Linked DNA regions of Homo sapiens: regions 1 and 3 are each linked to region 2. The links come from fine-mapping of genetic effects on gene expression. A gene starts in region 2. Each other region holds a variant in brackets. All regions are shown on one strand. Distances are between the middles of the regions.

The links. PIP is the estimated chance that this variant, and not a neighbour inherited with it, causes the effect. A credible set is the group of variants that fine-mapping cannot tell apart.
Region 1: its variant is the best candidate, but not a certain one, in a credible set for the expression of GAS6-AS1 in left ventricle (GTEx, PIP 0.83).
Region 3: its variant is the best candidate, but not a certain one, in a credible set for the expression of GAS6-AS1 in whole blood (INTERVAL, PIP 0.72).

What each region holds. Positions count from the first base shown.
Region 1 is chr13:113,852,531-113,860,185 of GRCh38, forward strand. The region is part of intron 2 of GAS6 (growth arrest specific 6); the gene reads right to left. Among named protein-coding and RNA genes, the nearest start is that of GAS6, 7.7 kb to the right of the region's middle. RefSeq lists enhancers at 1-415, 416-915, 1,291-2,005, 2,006-2,719. The variant C/T (reference allele first, on the strand shown) is at 3,125.
Region 2 is chr13:113,811,474-113,819,128 of GRCh38, forward strand. It overlaps GAS6-AS1 (GAS6 antisense RNA 1), which reads left to right and starts at 4,137. Exons shown (of 5, transcript NR_044995.2): 1 at 4,137-4,218. TMEM255B (transmembrane protein 255B) reads left to right here. Exons shown (of 9, transcript NM_182614.4): 9 at 263-5,522. The coding sequence ends at 430. It also overlaps LOC124903220. RefSeq lists enhancers at 4,021-4,090, 4,141-4,380, 4,441-4,560.
Region 3 is chr13:113,761,682-113,769,336 of GRCh38, forward strand. It overlaps TMEM255B (transmembrane protein 255B), which reads left to right. Exons shown (of 9, transcript NM_182614.4): 2 at 4,434-4,576; 3 at 7,417-7,479. Among named protein-coding and RNA genes, the nearest start is that of TMEM255B, 6.3 kb to the left of the region's middle. The variant C/T (reference allele first, on the strand shown) is at 3,960.

The sequences.
Region 1 (7,655 bases), 41 kb after region 2:
AAAGTGTCTGATGAGTAGATGCCACCTCCGGACCCTGGCATCCGCCTCTGCTGCCTTTGCTCTGCTCAGGAGGGCAGTGGGTGCCGGCAGAATCCATGGGAATTGGTGCAGTGTCACAAAGACCCAAGTCCACCTCCGCCCCTGCCCTGCCCACCACCAGACCCAGGTCTCCCCCGCTCAAAGCCACCCACAGGGCAAAGGTCAAGCATGGCAGGGAGCTGCACACAGGGTTCCCAGGATGGGTCGGCCTCGGGGACCAGGCTGTAGCCTGGCCACCCATGCGGCAACCCTACCAGCAGGGCACTGCGGTTCTCACGCCCCAACCCCCAAATGACCTTTAACCTGGTGACAGGCTTCCTCACCCAGAGCTGTGGTTCAGAACAAGGTGGGGTGACCTCCCCATGCCACCGCAGGAATCAGGCAGCACCCAGCACGTGAAGAGACCCTCCAAGGGGCCGGGGGGACTCTTCCCCTAGGCCTGCTCTGGGGCCCCTGCCTACCTGCCTGCAGCTTGGTGAGGGTTTCCAGTGGTCTCTCGATCCAACTAGACCCTGGGAGGGCCCATTCACTTTTTAAAAATGGCCAAAACCTCCATGCGGTGATGGCACACAACACAGTGCATTAACAAGACAGGAAACACTTTTGGGCCCAAAGTGCACTGAACTGGAAGCACCTCACGCAGCCTAAAGTCAGTTTGGAAGGTTCCAGAACATTTCCTAAACACCTTCATCTCTGAATACACTTTAACTCCTTGGGTCCCAGCAAGGTCTCTGCCTGGTGGTGAGGGGCAGCCAGGGGATTAAGGGCACGGCCCGACCTGACGCTCACTCATCCTTGGGCCACAGTCCCCGCAGAGCTGCAGTGAGGATCAGAGGTCAGTGAACGTGGAGAACCTTCTGCAAACACCCGATGTCAGTCCTGCATAAATCTTTTTGTGTGAGTTTCATCTGCATTCATACAGCAAATAGTGGTTATTTTTCAGAGTGTGCTAAGAATGTATTACTCTCTTTAGCAAATAACAGCCATAAATTTTGTTTCCAAAAATCTTTATCTTACTTGACAAGTGGGTGGAGACTGCTGAGCACAGGGACTCTGTTTATCAACACCATAACTTTCTCTGATATTTTCCATGGGAAATGGTCACAAGAATTCACTAACCCTTTGACCATAGTGCTGTCTTCCAAGAACTTGACTTCTATGAGAAAACTCAGAGTAACGCCCACAGGAACTGCCCTTGGGGAGCCTTCCTTTCTCAGCATTTGCAGACTCTCTGAAGAGCCGCCGTCTTACAGACCCTTGGCCTGGCAGCCCGGCTCTATTCATGTTCTTCTAGCTTGGGAAGTGCAAAATCCTTTCCTTCCTTCCGAATTCGTTTCCTAAGTCTTCACACCCGCAGCAGCCTGCTCTAGCCCTGAGCAAAGTGGAAGTGCTGATCCCACTGCCCACAGGAGGCAGTGCATGGCCCCCAGCCCAGAGGACCCCAGGCTGACCTGGAGGGAGACAGGCCCCAGGAAAGCACAGTCAGTATACCCGGCATGCCCATCTGCACCCAGGGTCAGCGGTGACAGGTGCCTCTGCCCTCCTCCAAGCTCACACCCAGGTGCGCCCTCCCTTGCTGGGAGCCCTCTTCCTGGGAGCTCATCCTGGTGTGACTGCCCGGTCAGATGTGGATGCTGGGAAAGGCCTCTGTAGCTGACTGCACAGCTGTGAGCACCCTCCATGCCTCACAGCACCGACGTGGTGCCTGACCCGGTGGGTAACCAAGCTCTTCTCACAGAAGCCCCGAGACACACATCAGTGTCTCTCATGGGCTTCATGGCAAACGAGACAGAGGAGCTCGAGTGGCTTCCAGCAGCTGCACGGCGGTAACGCCGAGACTCGCCCCGCATGGCAGTGACGCCGAGACTCCCCCTGCATGGAAGTCATGCTGAGACTCAACCCTGCACGGCAGTAATGCTGAGACTCACTCTGCCCGTCTCTGCCCCAAACACAGAGCATGCTCCCGACAGCCCCCAGCAGGGTGTCCTGTGGTGCACAACATTCAGCATGTGAGCGTGGACGCAGGGAAGGAACAGAGCTGCAGCCCCCACAGGCCCTGAGCCAGCACAGGCTCTCATCGAGGAAGGCCCGCTGTCTTTCAGGGCAAGCCCCACCGAGGGCTGCCTGCTTTGAAGTGCAGAGCAGTGACTGTCTCTGGCCATTTGGCAGCATCCTTGCGGGCCCTGAGAGAAGCCAGTCAGGAAGCCACACAGCTGTTGGATGGGAGGGATGCTGGCCACAAGAAACACTACAAGGAGAGAGGCCCAGGACACGCCACTGTTTGCACGTGGTGGGCAGAAGGGAGCCTGGGAAAGTGCTGACTAAAGACAGGCCAGTCTGTGGGGGAGCAGAGGGCGGGGAGGAGGAAGGAAGAGGGTTCCTCCGTGCCCACCCCAGCCCCGGTGGCATCGCTGTCCTGGGAGCAGCCTCGTGCCCGCAACAGCTGCCGTGGAGAGGAAGTGGGATGTCTCACTGCAAATGCTTTGGGAAAAACAAGACAGTGTACTTTGTGATCATATAAAACAGCAAAATAAAATAGTCGTGGGCACAGGGCCAGTGATTCTGCAGTTAGAGCCGTGTGGACTCGGTCCCCATCTCCGGTGAGGGCGTCTCCTGCACACGGCACCCATGCTTCAGGTCGCACACACGTGCCTTGGACCCAAGTTCACCTTTGGAGGTGTCAATCCCCCCAAGAAGATGTGCTAACCTTGGAGTTTGGGGCCTAGGCTTCCATCAGAGTCTTCCCCACAGAAAGCGAACTGGGACTGGTCCCTCAATAAGCTACCGGCCTCTGTTCACAGCAGCACAGGATGAGGATGCCTGGGTCTTGCCAGCCACCACGTTCTATGATCCCAGGACAAACACGATTGCAAAGTTCATGTGTGTTCCCGGCTTACAAATGGGGAGGTTTATTTACGGCCTCTCCGGATCCACGGGGAGCTGCTCCATGGGACGCTGGACAGCTCAGTTCCCTTGAAAGGATGGCTGCACCATCGAGCATGACTCAACCCAAAGATCCAACGCGCAGGGGCCTGGCAGGGACAGCTGTGCTTGGGACGCCGGTGTGCCACTGCCGCTTCTGCGC[C/T]GGGAGTCACGCCCCGGCCTCTCCCACTGGGCTCCCAGCCTGAGCTCTGCCCAGCTGGTGTAAGGACAGTAAAGGCAACCAGATGCCCTGACTGCGACCACCACCAATAGTCGCCAAGAGTGCACGCAAGCAGAAATCACAGATGCCCTGGCAGCTGCCTGAGGGACAGGCTTCTCCTCCAGCTTTATCCAAGTTGAGCTGGTCTTCGGCCAGACGACCAAGCTCAGGCCCCAAATTCACCTGGGTTGCTCTGAGGACTGGTGAGACTTAAAGGTCACTTGGACTCCTCCAGTGGCCGGGACACATGTCTCTCTAGTGGACTGGTTGCCTTCCGTGTTGTGAGGACCGGCCAGGCCTGCAGGTTGGTGCCTTCCTCTGGCCTCACTGAGCAGCAACACTCAAGTTCAAACACAAAACCACCATTTATGGTGGAGCCATGGGCTCTGTAGCCCAGCATGACGCACCTGGCAGACCATGTTCACGAGACTAATGCTCCGAGCCACTGACACACACCCAGCTCCCCGCAGCCGCCCTGTGCTTTATGCGCCCACACCAGCACCACTCAGCCCTCACATGGGTGCCAGTATGCTCACAGTCGCCTGCACACAGAGGAGCACACAGTGGGGCCGGGGGTGCTGCCGCGTCCTGCTCTCCCCCAGTCCCAGCGAGCACAGGAGTTAATGACAGAGTGTGGGGCTCAAATGCCCAGGACACACTGTAGCCCTCCACAGCCTCTCAGGGCCTCAGTTTCCACATCTGTAAAATGGCTCAGTGACAGCTGTTACACAGTTGTCATGAGGATGTAACAACTTCACACATGGAGACCCCGAGAACAGCACTCTCAGGAGGACCCGTGCACGATTCATCTTTCAGACTAACAGACGAGCTGAGCGACGGACGAGCTAAGTGATGGATCTGAGAACGGGAGTGATCGGGAAGTGAACAGTTTCATCATCTGCTGCTGCTATTCAATTGTCAGGGTTGAAATAAACGGAAAGCCAGCCTGCCCGTAAACACTGTCATGTATTTCCCACAAGTGTAAAAAGGAAGTGAACAGTATCTTCCAGGTGTGGTGGAGACAGTCCAGACACACCCAAAGCCCACTGCGCCTCCCTGAGAGCTCCCGCGTCCGGGCTGCCCTCATTTGGAGTGGGCAGGAATGCCACACCGCAGCCCTCTCTGCTTCTGCAGGGACGGTCAACTTAGCAATTCAGAAAAGAAACAATGTTGACTCAGAGAGTGGCCTTACTGTACTGTGGACAGTTGGTCCTGGATGGGAGCCAGTCCCAGCCTGGCCGAACGTTTGGCCTTTTTATGCTGAGAATCCAGCCACTGCAGTGACCGGCCCAGGCTCTCTGAGGGCTGGCTGGGTCAAGCTGTGTGTTTTCCATGGAGCCCCAAGTTCCAAGGGGAGGTAGTCACAAAACAGGGTCTAGCAGGTTTGTGGACAGATGTGGAGAAAATGTATTTTCTTATCATAGGCACTAACACTGGAAGGAAAAAAATTTCACCTATAATTTGAAAACGGAGCCCCAGAAAATTAGTAGAACATTAACAAGGCCCAATGCACTTTACTATTTCTTTTGAATATTATACTTTTAATCAACACCCGTCAGTCAGAGCAGAGAGTGCCTCTGTCAGAGTGAAAGGCAAAACTGATACTGTTCTTAACTTATTCCACTTCCAGCTCCCCTTTAAAATTTATTTTAAAACTTTTAAAATGAACCTTTCACTTGGCCAGGGTCAAAATTTACAAGGCGTACACACCAGGTTTGCAGTGAAATCACTGGAATATAAAAACCATGGAAGAGTCCAGAGCATTTCCAACATCAAATACGAAACCCTTAAACAAGCAGCTTTGCATTGGAGAAACAGCTCTCAGTTTTAACCTTAGAAAACAGGGGAAAATGAAGCATGAGGAAACCTGGATGCCTGTCAATCGCTCTGGGGTAAAGCCATAACCTGGGAAGTGCTCAGCATGCCCCAGCTAGCAAGCTTAACGCCCCTTTACTCAGAATCTCAAGAAAGAAGCCATAAGCACTTGCTTCCTAAAAGAGTGTTTTGTTCCTAAATAACAAAGGGAGACGTTCAGCGTTTCTCAAAACGTCTTTAATTAGAGTTTTCCACAGATGTGAAGCTCTCCGGCTCGGGTGAGGGTGTCGTGTGCAGGGCCTGGCACTCGGCTGCCTCTGAGAAAGCCCCGGAGGAGCCTGGCACCAAGTGCCTGCAGACGCCCGGGTGAAAACAAGCATCTGCACAGGTGCGGGCACAGGAGAGGGCTGCGGAGCCAGCACGGAAGACGGCCCTCAGAGGAGGCCGGGCCGGGGTCCACCTGCAGGCCTCAGGATGGGCCCAGGAGGAAAGGCCTTGGCCACAGGGCTCCGGCCCCTCAGGCAGGGGGCTCTGGGAGTGGAGAGACCCTGGGGGTCTGAGGAAGCTGGGGCCACAGAGCCCCGTGACCTTGTGTCACTTTTTAGTGATCCTGCTGCAGCTGTCAGTGGTCTTCTGACCCCAAAGTTGTAGAAAGAGAAAAGTGTGTGAGAGGGTGCACATGTGTCTGTGTGTGTCTGCATGCATGTGGCTGGGCATCCATGTGTGCCTGTGTGTGTATATGTGTCTATTTATGTGACTGTGTGTACATGTGTGCATATTATGCATGTGTGTACATGTCTGTCAGTGTATGACTGTGTACGTATGTCTATGTGAATGTGTGCATGTGTGTGCATGTCTGTCAGTGTGTGTGACTGTGTGTTTACATATGTCTATGTGAATGTGTGCATGTGTACATGTCTGCTAGTATGTGCCTTTGTGTGTGCATGTCTGTGTGCCTATGTATGCATGTCTGTGTGTGACTATGTACATCTATGTGAATGTGTGCATGTCTGTGTACGTCTGCTAGTATGTGCCTTTGTGTGTGCATGTCTGTGTGTGACTGTGTACGTATGTGTACATGTCTGTGTGTGCCTATGTATGCATGTCTGTGTGTTTGTGACTGTATGTGTACATGTCTGTGTGTGCCTATGTATGCATGTCTGTGTGTGTGACTGTGTATGTACATCTATGTGAATGTGTGCATGTATGTGTACATGTCTGTTAGTATGTGTGTGCGTGTCATTATGCATGTGTGTACATGTCTGTGACTGTATGTATGTCTATGTGAATGTGTGCATGTATGTGTACATGTCTGTTAGTATGTGTGTCATTATGCATGTGTGTACATGACTATGTAAGTCTATGTGAATGTGTGCATGTATGTGTACATGTCTGTTAGTATGTGTGTGCGTGTCATGCATGTGTGTACATGTCTGTGTGACTGTATGTCTATATGAATGTGTGCATGTATGTATACATGTCTGTTAGTATGTGTGCCTTGTATGTGCATGTCTGGACAGTGTGTGACTGTGTGTACGTATGTCTATGTGAATGTGTGCATGTATGTGTGTGCATGTCTGTCAGTGTGTGGCTGTGTGCTTACATATGTCTATGTGAATGTGTGCATGTATGTGTACATGTCTGCTAGTATGTGCCTTTGTGTGTGCATGTCTGTGTGTGTGACTGTGTACGTATGTGTACATGTCTGTGTGTGCCTATGTATGCATGTCTGTGTGACTGTGTAGGTACATCTATGTGAATGTGTGCATGTATGTGTACATGTCTGTTAGTATGTGTGTGCATGTCATTATGCATGTGTACATGTCTGTGTGACTGTATGTCTATGTGAATGTGTGCATGTATGTATACATGTCTGTTAGTATGTGTGTGCCTTGTATGTGCATGTCTGGACAGTGTGTGACTGTGTGTACGTATGTCTATGTGAATGTGTGCATGTATGTGTACATGTCTGTTAGTATGTGTGTGTGCCTGTTTATGTGTGTGCATGTCTGTCAGTGTGTGTGTGTACGTATATCTATGTGAATGTGTGCATACGTATGTACATGTCTGTTAGTATGTGTGTGCCTGTGTGTGTGCATGTATATCTGTGTCTATGGGAACATATGTACATGTGTGCATGTGTCTAGGTAGGGGTGTGTGTGTCCCTGCACACCTGTATCCATGAGTCAGCACCTATCTGTGCTGGTGTCCATGTGTGAATGTGTGTGCATGTGTCTGTGTGTGGGAGTGTGCTGCAGCCTCTGTCAAGGCAGGGCAGGGGAGGTCTCAGCCTGGCCATCACCTTCCCCACCAGGCGCCCCCACATTGTACAGCCCTCCCCTCCAACAGGGACCTCCCTTTAGGCCATCCCAACATCTGGGCCTGTGTCCCAGCCAAGTGGCTGTTCCCAAGTGGGGACTCAGAGGGGTTTTCATTTCCATAAAGGGTACCCCTTCCCCAGCTGTTCCCAAAGAATCCACAAGGTCAGGGAAAAGGTGCTTGGAGGGCACATGCAGTTCAGGATGAGCCAGCAAGTTTGAAAACGGATGCACCAACATCCCATGCGGAGAATTCCTCACCACCAGCAGTGGGGAGAAGAGAGAGACTGGGACAGAGAGAGAAACACAGAGGGAGACAAAGAAAGAGATGGGGGAAGGGA
Region 2 (7,655 bases):
CCCTGGGTCTGTGGGGGGCCCGTGTGAATAGCCCTGGGTCTGCGGGGGGCCCTGTGTGAGTGGCCCTAGGTCTGAGGGGGCCTGTGTGAATAGCCCTGGGTCTGCGGGGGGCCCATGTGAATGGCCCTGAGTCTGCGGGTGGCCCTGGGTTGGCGGGGTGGGTGGGGAGCGTGTGAGTGGCCCTGGTATATGTCAGGCTTCCCTGTGGTCCGGCACGGGGTGGTCTCACCTGCTAACCCAGGGCCCTCTCTGTTTATTGCAGCCCTGCAGCCGCTTCCCAGTTGCGCCCTCCTCTGCCCTGGCTTCGTCTGAGGACCTGCAGCCCCCTTCTCCAAGCAGCTCTGGCTCTGGGCTTCCCGGCCAGGCTCCACCGTGCTACGCACCCACCTACTTTCCCCCGGGGGAGAAGCCACCCCCCTACGCACCCTGATAGAGGCGTGGAGTAAAAGATAACTTGTTTGTTTTTTTTTTTAAAAAAAAGGCAGCCTCTAGAAATCCCGCTTCTGTGGCCAACCTCCTAGAGAACCCGGGAGAATGTTCCAGAAGTCTGTCCCCTCCTTTCCTCCCTGGGCACACTGGTGAGGGAGGCTGGAACCAGGCAGGGAGTGGGGCCCTCCAGACCCAGGCTGGTGACACCTTGGCTTGGGCTCTGCTCACATCAAATGGCGCTGAAAGTTCCCACCCGGCCTCCTCCTCTGAGAGCAATTGTTCTGGTGTTTTCACATCCCTTAATTAATTAGCTATTATTATGATTTTGCAAAGACAGTGCAGCCCCGGCCTCCCTGCCTGTGTGTTCTTGTTTGTGGACATGTGTTGTGCGTTACACGTTCGTGTGTGCATCTGTGTCCTGGAGAAGCGCAGGGCAGAAGCCACCCGCCCCTCGTGCTGTGCTCCTGACGTATGCCAGGAAGGGAAGGACGCTTCGGCTCCAACGCCCAGCGCTGTGTCTAACCGCCTGTGAGTTGTTAGAATCCAGGGGCCCGGTTGTCTTTCCCAGCCCCGGATGCAAATCTGCCTGGGCCACTGGCACGAGGGTCTTCCCCTGAGCTGTCTCCCAGCTACGGCGCCTGGGCTTCCGCTGTCCTTCCGCGGCTTCTCCCTCACCGCACCTTGTCTCAGGACCCCTGGCCGCTGGGATGGTGGGGGACGGTGTTTCGGGGTCCTTTGGCTCAGGGTCTGGGGCCGCAGCACTCCCTGTGGAAACCAGCTTAGCTCCCCGCGGGCCCAGCATGCACCTGCCGGGCACACCTGGGGAGACGGGTGAGCACGCCTGGGAAGCAGCAGGTCCCGGGTGGGTCACAGGCCCCGGGTGGGTCACAGGACAGGTCTCAGGTGGGTCACAGGTCCTGAGTGGGTCACAGGTCCCGGGTGGGTCACAGGCATCCCGGGTGGGTCACAGGTCCCGAGTGGGTCACAGGCCCCGGGTGAGTCACAGGCCCCGGGTGAGTCACGGGTCCCGGGTGGGTCACGGGTCCCGGGTGGGTCACGGGCCCCGGGTGGGTCACGGGTCCCGGGTGGGTCACGGGTCCCGAGTGGGTCACGGGTCCCGGGTGGGTCACAGGCGCCCCAGTGACAGGAGTTCAGGATGCGCCACCCCAAAGTAGCCGAAGTCTCTTGAAAAGTGTTGGATGTGGGGAGAGGCTTTCTCTGAACTCCTGAAGTCAGATCCTCAGGGAACCAGGGACTCCCAGGGCGGGAGGGCGGGCGAGAGGTGATCCCATTGCTCCCCAGACGTGCCACAAGACACCAAGTCGCCGTCTCTGCTCTGTGGGCCGCTCACGGTTCCCCAGTCACTCCCTCTCCCCTCGGAAGCTGGCGCCTCCAGGCCTCACCGCTCTCAGGGCCTCACGTCCCTCCCTGCAAAGCCCCCCGTGCCTACGATAAACAAGTACCGCTCTTCTCCCGTGTGGGTCTGAGGTCTCCAGCTTACTTCACGGAACAGTGCCCACCTGGGAGGTGGAGCGGGGACTTTCTCCCCTGCCCAGTCCTGGATCTGGGAGAAAAAAGATAAGGTGGAGGGGAGCCACACTCGTGCAGACACAGCCTCCTGCCCCCTCTGCTGCCCGGGAGCCTCCCTCTGTCCGATGGAGGGTCTCACACAGCCTCTGCCCCCTCCGCTGCCCGGGAGCCTCCCTCTGCCCGACGGAGGGTCTCATCCTGTGTCCAGCGCTCCTGGGCAGAAGGCCCACAGCGCACATCCACACATGAACGGTGGCTGGCTGGGCCCAGGGGCCCTAACGGGCCTCTGAAAGGCCTGCAGCCAGCTCTGGTCTGTGAACCCGCCACTGCTTGTCATTTTTATCTTATAAAATCCAGCCTCACAAGCTTGCTGTCCAGGAGAATGTGGTCTTGGCCTCTCAGGGCTGACTGGCCTTGAACCAGTCCGGGAGGTCGGGCACGAGCCGGAGGTGCGGCGTCCTGTCTGGAAATCACCGCCCAGTTCCTCCAGGGCTGTGGGTGCCTGGCTCCGAGTAAGAAGCTGAACAAGCAGCAGAGACCAAGAGGTTTCTGGAGCGCCGGGAGATGCACTCACGAGCGCCTGTGGGGGAAGAAAAGTGTGCCACGGATTTCCCGAGTCCCCAGGGCTCTCACTTTACCTCAGGGAAGGCTCTATGGGCGCCGATGGTGCCGTGGTCTTGTGTGGGCGGTTCCTGGGCACCCTGGAGCTCGGGCTGTGCCCCCGAAGCTGCCTGGTGCAGGCACCAGCACCTCTTGGTGTCCTAGGGGTGCGAACAGCAGAGAAGCTGAACTGCAGGTCTGGGCAGGGAGTCTATGCCCCCTGGAGCTCTGGCCAGCAAAGTCACAGGAATAACCCTCCTTCCCCTCATGTCAGCCCTCGGTCGCAGGGTGCGGTGTGGGGGCATCAGAGTGCTTCCCCGAGGCTGCACTCACCAGCTTCCCCCAAACACAACATCGATCTTTCCCGACTTTTAATCTTGTCTAGAGTCAAAAGCTGTTCAAAAATATTCAACTCCAAGGTCAACAGTTTTGTTCTTGCCACAAAAATGTCCTTATCCTTTATCCCAGCCACAAAGAATGTGAACAATTTGACTCAAGGTTCGTGGTGGCTGGAGGGTCCCCCAGGTCCCAGGGCAGCTCCCACCTGGCGCAGGGCTCCGGCCAATGCCTGGCCTGCAGTGTGGGCGGCGGCTGCTCTCGAGGTGCACCTGTCTCATGTGGACGGATCCTGTCTGGGGCCACCAAGCTCTGCCAGCCTGAGTCACGGTCTGATGAACCCCCTCTCTGGGCTCCGCTGGGGCCTTCTGATCCCAGCCTCCTCTGCAGGGATGGGCTCCCAATCCCGCCCTCACTTGGTTCCCATGCACAGCCGAGGTCAGTGAGACCCTGGAGGCCGCGGGAGATGGGGTGGAGGGGATGGTGGGGCAGGGGGTGCTGGGGGGTTTGGGGGTGCTGTGGCCCCGGGGCAGGGGGTGCTGGGGGGTTTGGGGTGCTGTGGCCCCACCTGCACTCCCTGCCTCACTGGGACAGCACAGGAGACAGGCTTCTCCTGCAGCTCAGAGGTGGGGGCCTAGTGTAGCTGCAGGTTGTGACTGAGGAGGGCAGGGTCAGAGCATTGCCCTGGGCAGGGGTCCGTTGAGACTGGCCCCACCTTATTAGCTTGGGACCTTGGGTTACAGGGAGTCTCCTCCTGCCTCAGTTTCTACATTTCACACAGCAGCACTGCTCACAAGAGCTCCCAAGCAGAGGCAACTACTGAGTGGGGGAGGGACACAGTCCGTCCACATGGGGCCAACGGCCACAAAGAGAGGAAGGGACATGGGTGACGGTCCGTCCACGTGGGGTCACCGGCCACGGAGAGAGGAAGGGACATGGGTGACGGTCCGTCCACGTGGGGTCACCGGCCACGGAGAGAGGAAGGGACATGGGTGACGGTCCGTCCACATGGGGTCACCGGCCACGGAGAGAGGAAGGGACATGGGTGATATGGTTTTGCTGTGTCCCCACCCAAATCTCAACTTGAATTGTATTTCCCAGAATTCCTGCGCGTTGTGGGAGGGACCCAGCGGGAGGTAATTGAATCATGGTGGCTGGTCTTTCCCGTGCTATTCTCGTGATAGTGAGTAAGTCTCACGAGATCTGACTGGTTGATCAGGATTTCCGCTTTTGCTTCTTCCTCATTTTCTCTTGCTCCTGCCGTGTAAGAAGTGCCTTTTGCCTCCCACCGTGATTCTGAGGCCTCCCCAACCATGTGCAATTGTAAGTCCCGTTAAACCTCTTTTTTTCCCAGTCTCGGGTATGTCCTTATTAGCAGTGTGAAAACAGAATACTACAGTGGTCCATCCACACGCGGGTCTCACCCAGCCACAGAGAGGGAGAGGACGTGGCCCATCCACACGCGGGTCACCCGGCCACGGAGAGGAAGGAAGCTCTAACGGGTGCTGAGGCTGTAACACACAGTGCTCAGGGAAGGACACCAGACATGAAGACTGTGTTCTGTTTATATGCAGTGTCCAGAGAAGGCGTGTCCACAGACAGAAGCCGACTGGGAAAGGAGGTGCAGTCACTGCTCAGGGACACGGGTTCTTTTCGGGGAGGCAAGCGTGTTCGCAGCGTGTTCTGTATGGGGAGAGATGCAGTCACTGCTCAGGGACACGGGTTCTTTTCGGGGAGGCAAGCGTGTTTGCAGCGTGTTCTGGATGGGGAGAGGTGCAGTTACTGGTCAGGGACACGAGTTCTTTTCGGGGAGGCAAGCGTGTTTGCAGCGTGTTCTGGATGGGGAGAGGTGCAGTCACTGGTCAGGGATACGAGTTCTTTTCGGGGAGGCAAGTGTGTTCTAAGCGTGTTCTGGATGGGGAGAGGTGCAGTCACTGGTCAGGGACACGAGTTCTTGTGGGAAGAGGAGTGTCCGGGAGCCAGATGGCAGTGATGGGTGGACGGCCCCGTGGATGGACTGACCACCGACCCATGCTCTGCACTCATGAGGCGTGGCTATTGCTGTGTGAATCACATCTCCATGGAAACGGGAGTGGGAGAAACGGGCCCCAAGGATGTTGTGAAGATGGCCTTATGGGGCTGCACTGGTGACTTGGACAGTGCTGGCCACCGGCCCTGCTCAGTGAACAAGAGCCATGGTCATCACCCTCGCCACACAGAGCAGCTCCTCCTGCAGACTTGGGGACCCCGTGGCCACCAGACCCCGCGGTGGGAGCAGAGATGCCTCCGAAACTCTGGAGACCCACAGAGGCAGAAGAGGATTCCACGAGGCCGGGGCCCGTCAGCAGATCCTCAGACGGCGACACGCGCCACTTCCTTTTCTGTTTCCTAGACCTTTTAACTGATGGAATTCAGTAAGCAGAAAACGTGCTTGAAACAAGGGCACCATGGAGCGGACCCTCCCCCTCTCCCCTCGTGGAGTCCTTGACCCTGGGGCAGGTGACCCTTCTTGCTTTGCAGGCAGGGGCTGTGGCTGGAGCTTCTCCTACAAATGGGCTGTGCTGGGATTAGCCCGGCTGTACATTTGCTTTATGCTTCCGTTGGCATTTAAAAATCTGATGTTCATATTTGCCGTATTACGTGAAGTAGGACGAAACGTTCCTTCTTGCTTAGAGCAGTGTTTCCCCAGAGGTGCCCGGGCCCAGGGGACAGTGGCCAACCTCTGGAGACATTTCGTGTTGTCATGAGGCTGGGTGTCCAGGAGGGGGCGATGCTGCATCTGCTGTGCACAGGACGCGGCCACATCAAAGGACCCCACCTGCAAAACACATGCCCAACCTCCTTCCTCCTCTCCAGCCCAGAGTCAGGGCTGTCCCCCCTCCCTCCAGGGGACACATCCCCCCTCCCTCCACGGGATACATCCCCCCTCCCTCCACGGGACACATCCCTCCTCCCCCCACGGGACACATCCCCCCTCCCCCCACGGGACACATCCCCCCTCCCTCCAGGGGACACATCCCCCCTCCCTCCACGGGACACATCCCCCCTCCCTCCACGGGACACATCCCCCCTCCCTCCAGGGAACACATCCCCCCTCCCTCCAGGGGGCACATCCCCCCTCCCTCCACGGGGCACATCACCCCTCCCTCCAGGGGGCACATCCCTCCTCCCTCCAGGGCGCACATCCCTCCTCCCTCTAAGGGGCACATCCCTCCTGCCTCCCCAGGGCACCAGCACTTGCACCACGTGCTCTGTCTTCCCATCCTCTTGCACACCCCAGACATGCCTGGTTGTGGAGGGTGCCAGGTCGCCAACGTGACAGGCCTGGCTGGGCCTCTGTGTTGCAATTCCTAGCACCATTGGTTTTGCTTGTTTGGGACAGTGGTTATTATAACTTCTGGCACCCCCGGAACTCTAAGAAAACAATACTAGGAAACAGAAGTTCCTGATTCGTCTGGAGGCAGAGCAGAAACCCAGGCGGAGGGTTGTGTCCTGAGGACACTGGTGACTGTAGCCTGTGTCTGTGGGGGCCTCCCCACGTCTCTGTCCCTGAGACTGGCCGTTGCCTGTTTTTGCTCCTGGCCGTCTTGACTTGGGGAGGATGGAGGTTGGGCAGGAGCAGGCTCCCAGCCGGCTGGGGAACATTATGGGAGAGCACTGGGGGGCACCCACCAATGTGATCTGACGGACGCCGCAGTGCCGGGCTGGAGGCCGGGATCTGAGGGACGCCGCGGTGCCGGGCTGGAGGCCGGGATCTGAGGGACGCTGCGGTGCCGGGCTGGGATCTGACGGACACCGCGGTGCCGGGCTGGAGGCCGGGATCTGAGGGACGCCGCGGTGCCGGGCTGGAGCCTGGGATCCCAGCGTGCGGCTGTGGCCCCTGTGGCCGTGTGAGGCCGTGCAGTGGGCAGTGCAGGGCTCTCCTGGGGCCCAGGGGGCTGTGTTCCACGGGCTTCTTGGAGCTCTGCTCAGCTGGCTCTGGCATCGTCGGGGTCAGACGAGTTGGCCTGCTTAGCGAGCCGTCAGCATCCACGCCTGGGCCTCCCAGAACTGGGCTTCTGTGCTGATGGCCAGATCCGAGCCCTGGGCCCGACCATCCTCAGCCCAACCAGCACCTGGACATCCCGGAGCCAGCGTGGAGGCCTGGGCTGCGGGTCCCCGACCGTGTGAGCAGCCGGTGGCCATCTGTCCCGGCCCGAGTGGAGAAAGCGCATCTGCCTGCGGAAGGTCCACGTGCTGCTGGGCGAGGCTGGCGAGAGCCGTCACACACACGCGGGGCCGCTGGCGGCAGATGGACGTTTCCGAAGGGAGCCGGCAGGAGCCTGACGTCTGCCCTCTGAGGCCAGGGCCTCCCCCGTCACTATTTTCTCACGGTACCGAAGCGAAAGTTGCCTGCAATACCTCTTAGACTAGGTTGAAGTCCTGAATTCAGGCTGCAGCCCTCAATCAACAGAACTTCTGCCCAGGTGCTGCCAAGATTTTGGGGAGAACAAGAGGCCCTTGCCCGGCGTGTCCAGAGCAAGTGGCATCATGCCCACGATGGCGCAGGGTCATGGGATGTGGCCCGAGGAGCCCATAACTGGCACCGGTCAACAAGAGCCCCAGAGACACAGGGTGGGCCTGCCAGGGACCCTCAGGGACCACCAGGGCCTGGAGGCTCCAGCGTAGACGAGCTGGGCGGCTCTGGACGGCAGGGGATGGGGCCCCCTGTGCATGGCCCCTGGCAAGGTGCCTGGCTGGCCGTCCATCCGTGGGGTGAG
Region 3 (7,655 bases), 50 kb before region 2:
ATTTACAAAAACCTATATGAGAGCCCACGTATCGTGTCTCACTGGACGCTTATCACAATCTCAAGAGGTGGGTGAGCAGGTGGTTCTCATGATTTCCATCCTACAGGTCAGGAGACTGAAGTGCCTTCATTCATTCCGTACCAGGAGATGTGTCTATGTCCTCATCTGAGCCCCGGGAACCGGCGACAAACAAGAGACAGAGCTCTTGGCTCTCATAGGGTTCTCTTCTCCCAGGCTCAGGGAGATTAAATGGCCGCCCAAGACCACACAATGGGTCTGGACAGACCCAGAATGGTTTGGGTCCAGTCCCTGTAAGCTGCCTCTGCAATAGAAACCTATTGGTAGATATTTTAATTAATAGTTGGGGCACTTAGGAGCACTTTAATTTTCACAGTGCGTGTAATAACAGTATTTCCGGGACAGGAAAAAAAAAAAAATCAAGGAAATTATTCAGGTGATTTTAATTATCTTTCTCCTAAGTGAAAGCCCCTTTCTCTTGAAAATCTGACCTTATAATTATCTCTTATGCTAATTATAAAGATATCCCACCTTCTTTTCTTGAGTTTATTTTTTTTCTCATTTTTATGCTGTGTCATGTATTTATAGAATGTGTTTAAGGTTGGGAGTCTTCTTTTTGTTATCTCTATTATATCTGGAGTCAAAATATCACCATTGTGTAATTGAATGAGATGATTTGCAACCATTGCTCCCAGTGCCCCATGTAAGTTCTACTGTCTTTCTAGACTTGTATAATCTAGGAATCTGTGATAGGAATGCTGATAAAAGGGTGGCTCATACCTTCTGCTTTTTATTTTGTAGCAGATGGGGGGGAAGTTAGACTCAGGAAAGAGGGGTAAACATAGCAAAGTTAGGTTGAAAATGGTTTGTAGGAGGATTTACGTGGTTTCAGAGGAGATGTGTCTAACTCTTCGCATAGTAATTAACAAGTCAGCATGTTACCGATTGACTTGACAAGGTCAGTTAGCCCAGTGGGTCTTGCTGGGCCCCCACTCTTCATGCCAAGGAACCGAGCAGAGCTTCCAGCTTTAAGAACCAGAATCCAGTCACAGGGTTCCTGACAGACGGACGCCCACAGGAGGCTGGGACAGGAGCCCCACGGAAGGTTCTACCTGTGGGTCGAAGCAGACGCTGAGTCATCTGGTTAACTATTTTGAGCATAATATTATATGCATGCAGTGCATTTAATTAAGAAAAATCGCACAACAAAATCCTTTGAGAAGGACAGCGTTTGTCTGATAATTTTCTCAAATACTTAGTCCCATAAAATTTAGTTTTAGAAATTGTATTGCTCTTAAAATACATTTAAACAGTCAAAAGATTGGAATGGGAGCCTAAGGAAAAGCAGGAAAGGCTGAAGCGGGAATTGTGTGAGTTGAAGGCACCTAGCATTTGGCTGCATTGGCAGGTGTTACATGGAGGCTGGTGAGGGTGACCTGGAGCCTCTGGTCATGATCAAATGAGATAAGGAAGTTAGGCTGCTCTGAAAATCGACACACAGCCCAATCCATAGATGGTGTTATTATCATCAATATGATTATTTTGTGTAATTCCACAATAGCTGTTTCATTAACTTCCAAAATGTGGAATTGCATATATTTTTAAATTTTGTGTCCATTTTTAAAAAGTTTACCTACCTTTCTAAAACGAATCAACCAGAACGGAGTTTCACCCACGGGAGGTGCCTGCCTTCCTCTTGCCCACTTGCTCCCAGCGTGGGTTTGCCGTTTCTCACCTCGACTTCCCGACAGAGACCCGGGATCTGTCGCCATCGCTCCTGTCTCTCGGGCAAACGACCGTGAACATATAACCTTTCAGGTTTTTAACAAATTGCAAGATTTCAGTGAAAAAATTACTATAAAGCATTGTGGTCCTAATTTAAGAAAAAAATGTTTTAAAAAGTACATAGTGCATTGAAAAAAGACCATAAGATTTTATGCCTACTTGTTAATTTAGGTTACCATGAATTTTATTTTCCCTTTTGCATTTTTCAGTACTTTATGAGTGTTCTACAAAAAATCACTCTGCTCTTCTGAGCAGCGTAAAAATCACACTTTCCAACATATACCCACTGTCTCCCTTTTCCTTGTAAGAATGTCGTTATCATCTTCCCAACCTTTTCCAGTCCAACGAGGGTTGGCTTTTAGTTCAGAAATACCATGAGAGACACAGGGAAGAACTGTGCGAGTTAGAGGTGGGGAGGAGGAAGGAAGCCTGAGGCTGAGAAGCGAGGGACTGAGAGGCGGAGCTGGAGGAGGCCTTGGGCCGTGTGTTCCGGCTGGCAGGTGCAGCGCCCATCCCCTCATGCAGGGCAGGTGTCGGGTGCCTGGGCCTCGGTCACTTGAGGGGAGTGTCCTCCCCATCCAAAGACAAGAAAGGACGTGCTCCATGCACACAGGAAGGCAGGTGTGGCCTGGGGTGGGATGGGCCGGGGCGTGGGCGTGGGACACGGGGACACGGGTTGGGGCTGGGGGAGCATGACTTTAACAGACACTGGGTGATGGATGTGTAGGTGCCAGGTCCTGGGCCGCCAGTGTGGCCTTGGGGCTCCTGGTGCTGTGCCCGCCCCTGCACCCACCTGCTTGTCACCCCTCTAGGTTTATTCAGTGTGACCCCTGCAGAAGCTGCCTTGGGGACCCGGAGGGCGCAGGTGTGGCCCTGGCTGCAGGGACCCCGAACCCCAGGGCGTGTTCCTGAGGCTGGGTGTGGGGATTGCTCCCTGGCCCGCACCGGGCTGCGGCCTCTGGTGTCTCAGGAGGGTGGCTTTCAGAAGGAGGGCCTCACTCCACACCAGTGGTGCTGGGCTGAGGGGTGCACTGTGCCATCACCAGGCCCCTCAGGGAAGGCTCTGCCCTCTGCCCGCTGCCTGTGGGTGACACATCCGGAGCGCCCTGTCCCCAGCCCTGCTTAAGTTTTCTCCACTGAACTTGGCCTTTTCCAATGCCTGCAGCGTGTGCCTCTGTCTGTCTGGTGTCCCCTCTGCCTCTCACATGCGAGGATGCTCTGCAGGGGCAGGGGTGAAGGGGCAACTGTGGAGAGCACAGGGGTGAGTGTGGCTACTATACTCAGTGTGTCTATGCAGCAACATGTAAGAGAGGCCTTCAGGGAGTGCTGCGAGTGTCTAGCTGGAGACAGCAGGTACAAAGGCCCTGTGGATGCTGCAACAAGCCTGCCTCTAAGGAGGCAGGAGATGGGGCAACCAGGGAGAGGCTGAAACCACTGCCTGCGGCCTGGAGTATAACACTAAGGACAGTGCCACTGGCCGCCTCGGTGCAGTGGGTCCAAGACGGGGGCAGCCTGGCTGGCTGGTGGGAGCCGATGGTTTATTACATTGGCGAATGGAGTGATCTGGTCCCCTCCAAGGTGGAAGGTAAAAAGCGATTTAGGATGAGATTCTTGGGACAAGTGTATCTTTGCAAGGGTCAAGAGGCAGGCAGGGTGCTGTGCCGGGGGCTGTGCTGAGTCCAAGAGGGCCTTGAAGGAAGGCCGTGACCAAGGCCACGCCCTTGCTGGGTCAGCTGGATAAAAATGACTCTCTCAGATCAGCAGAGCAATTCTGCATCTGCACATTGATTTATAGTTTTGTGAAACTCATTTCTGAGGATGTAACAATCCCTTCCTTGGGTGCGATAACCTTGCCTTGCCATTGAGCTCTGCTGATGGGATTGCAGAAGTGTAAATCTTCAGATGCGGACCTTCTAGGGTGTGGACAATGTCTGCACGGCCGTCATCGCTGCCAGCGGCTCTCCAGTGTGCGGTCTGCTTTCCCTGCACACACGCACTTACACATGTGCACACACACAAATGTTGATTTTCAAACTCTTGGAGTAGGAAGACCTTACCATGGTTTTTTAAATCCCCTATTTTGTTTGGAGTCACACAGGGATCAAGATGATTCAGTTTTCAAAAAATAAAGCAAAACAGATGGCACAGCTGGATGG[C/T]TGCTGTGTGCGTTCCTCTCTCCCTGCCCCTCCCCTGGTGGCAGCCCCCTCCCCCACTGGGTGTGGCTGGGATAGGCGGATAGAGAGGGTGTGTCTGTGAGCGAATGGTAATGATAAAACAGTAAACAAAAGATGCTCCTGTCCTCCTGGGGACACCAGGGGGAGAAAGTCAGATAGAGGAAGAGGCAGCCAATAGGAAGGAGTCCTTTCTAGTTTGCTTTCTTGAGTTCTGTGACAGTTAGAATTAGGTTTGGCCGCAAATACCAGGCTATCCAGTATAGTGGCTTATGGTCCAGAGATTTTATTCTGTTATCTAATGGAGGTTGGGGGTGGTCCCCTGAGGTGGGCCTGGAGGCAGGCGGGGATAGTGCATCCCAGGACCCCTGGGTAACGGAGCACGGCCCAGAGCCTGCTGGCCTGACGCCCTCCTGAGCCTGAGCCCTCACTGACAGGTCCTCGCCTTCCTCCCCACAGAAGGGCTTTCGAGGAGGAAGAAGACGTCGCTCTGGTTTGTGGGGTCTCTGCTGCTGGTGTCCGTCCTCATAGTCACCGTCGGGCTGGCTGCCACCACCAGGACGGAGAATGTGACCGTTGGGGGCTACTACCCAGGGATCATTGTGAGTGCGCCGGGCGGGCGGCCTGGGCCGGGGAGGGCAGGGTGGTGTGTGGCTCTCTCAGGGTGGAGTCCACGCCAGCTCACAGGGCTGGGGCTGAAGGTGGGGAGGCTTCGATCAGTGCTTGTGGTCGGCAGGGTTATGGCCCCCACAGACATGCACTTCCCAATCCCCAGGACCTGGGACAGTGGCAGGTCCAAGGCAGAGGGGAATTGGGGTTGAGGTCCAAGTTGATCTCAAAATAGGGCCAGGTGCCCTCCATTGTCTGGGTTGGCCCGATGTGGTCACAGGGTGACCAGAGGGCAGGAGGGGGGCCAGAGCCCGGCAACAGGAAATGTCCAAGGTGGAGGAGGGGCCAGGAGCCCAGGATGTCCAAAAAGGCCGGACAGAGCCTCCCCAAGCATCCTGGAAGGATTTTACCCTGAGGGACCAGGTCGACCACCATAGCCCATGGAAGGGGAAAGTAACTTTAAACGATTCCTACCAAGAAGCCGTGGGTCAAAGATCGTATTAGTGACGTGATCGCGTGGGAACGGCCAGAAGGTGGTGGTGCTGACCTCATCCACCCGTCAGGCCAGATTTTGAACAGTAAGGCGGCGAGGTAAATTGATGGTAACCTAATTGGCAAGAATTGGTCACCCAGATTCAAAAGTATCAAGGTTTTTTGAACTATGAAATTACATCCTCTGTCGTTAGTAAAAGAATTCTCCTAAGTGCCTGCATTCTGCACAGTGAACCTCTGTTGGAATGGCTTGGATCAGCTGCGATGCCCTTCACATGCCCCAGAGCCTGGTTGCTACGTCATAAAGTGCTAAAGCAAGATTTTAAAATGCGGCTTCTTCAATCTCATTACTCTCACCTAAAGTACTACCAAGATTGGTAATAATATTGATGACAATCAGCAAAGATGAAAGATTTTTGGCCCTAAGTATTTAGAAATATTTTACAAATACTGTTTATTTCACCATTATATTTTCCTTTGTTTATATCTTAGGGTGTGCCTTAGACATCTACACTATCTACCTGTGTATAGTTTATGAATAAACATATACAAATAGTATCTATGCAGAAAAAGCTTTATCAGTAAAATTGCAAGAGGCCAATGGTGTGGGGACCTTGGCCTCATGTGAGGGGCTTTTCTGCTTCCTGGGCAGAAAGGGGAGCCCAGAGGGCAAGTGGCTGTGAGGAGGGACCTCCAAGTGATTTGCGAAACATCAAGATCAGCCTTGAGTGGTTGTTTTTTTTGGTTTGTCCTCAAGCTTATTTAAGAGCTGCCTCAGAATAACATAATGAAAAACATCAATGGCTAATGCCCAAGCTATGCTCTGTAAAGAATCTACCTTCTGGGCAATGAATTAATGCTGTGCTGACCAGATTGAAATGGCCTGTAGTACAGACAGTTCTGAAAGCAAACTAGGGAGACAACAAATAAAAGCAGCTTCAAGGAAACGTGGCTAAGAGTCACTTCTGTGGAGACTTTCTGCCAATGTAGAGACTTAAGAAGCTGATCTCAGAAGAAGCGGCCAGAACGTGAAAACATCTCCACATTTTCAAGAAAGGTGTGGTTTTTTTCAAATCCCCAAAAAATAAAACGTAGTGTAACAGATGTATTTTAATACATGTATATCGAAGTGAAATTTTGATATTTTTGACGTGTGGAGTTGAACTGCAGTATTTTGAAGCTCAGCACATGAAGAAATATTCCTGTTATCCCTGGAGAATTCTCAAACCGTTGGTGAAAGCCACATGTGTACGTGTCTATCACCACAGACACACAGACAATTACAGAAAAGGCAAAACTATTTACATAAAGAAGTCCGGTTTCCAGTGCATTAAACTTGACACCACGGCCCCAGCAACTCCAAGGCTGTGCCGGGCGGGCCACCCCTTCCAACAGACACTCACTGGGAAGTGCGACCGGCCCGGCGCACCTGCGTGGGAGCAAGAGCCGTCTTAGGCCTCGGCACGGTCGTTGGCAGGTCCATGTTGGCTGCTCTGAGCCAGATTTTCGGTGGGTGTTGCTGAAATGCATGTTCTTCACACTGATTTTAAAAATTCCTCTGCCAGGTGGGCGTCACCTGCCAGGACGGGCCCTGGGTGGAGGGTGCGGATGCCCGGCCGGTGGCCTCTGTTCTAAGACAGCACAGTCCCATGTCTATTTCCCGACATCCCAGTATCATTTTCTGCCCAGAGCTGGGGCTTCCTGTGGAGTAAGGGGGCTCTGCCGGACCCCTGGTGGCCTGTGCTGCAGCCCGGGGCCCCCTCTGTGCCTGGCCCAGGTGCCCCCTCTGTGCCTGGCTCAGGTGCCCTTTCCCCACACCTGGCACCTCCCTGCTAACGGTCTGCCCTGCTCACTCTCCCGAAGCAGCAACCAGAGTTAGGCCGTCTGAGCAGGGGTCACTGGTGGCCCTTGTGCCTGGCAACCCTTCTTTTGAAACACGGCTGTAGTTCCCTAATACCTTACCCAGGAGCCATGCTCAGGGGCATCTCAGGCCTGGAGAAGACGGGACAGATGGTGGTGCTTGGTGGCCCTGGGTTCCCGAAAAGATGTTGTCTCTGGGGGAGGAGTGGGAACTTCTCTTACCCCAGAGTCACAAGCCAAACAGATGCATCATTAAAAACCTCTGAGCAGAGAAGACAGGACAGGTGATGTTGCAGAGATGCCTGCCCAACGCCAGCAGACGCACCTGCTGCTCAGTGGTTGAGGTTCTTGAGGTAGGGATGTCTGGCCTTCGTCCCTGGATAAAATGCCTTTGAGGGCGGGATTATTTGCTTTAAATGTCAGTGTTAAGCTTCTAGGCACGTTAATGAGTGTTTCTCTCTCGTTCTTCCTTTGGTTTTAGCTCGGCTTTGGATCTTTCTTAGGAATTATTGGCATCAACTTGGTGGAGAATAGAAGGCAAATGGTAAGAAAGTACATGGGGTGGTGGGGAGCATGAGTCCCTCATCAGGGGATGGTACAGCTGCACTGGGGCTCTGAGAAGAGTCAGCCCTGCCTCCCCAGCACACTGGTGTCTACAGGACCAGCTCTGAGGTTCCCGGGCTGTGGCCTGCACAGTCCTGGATACAGGGTTCAGCGAGT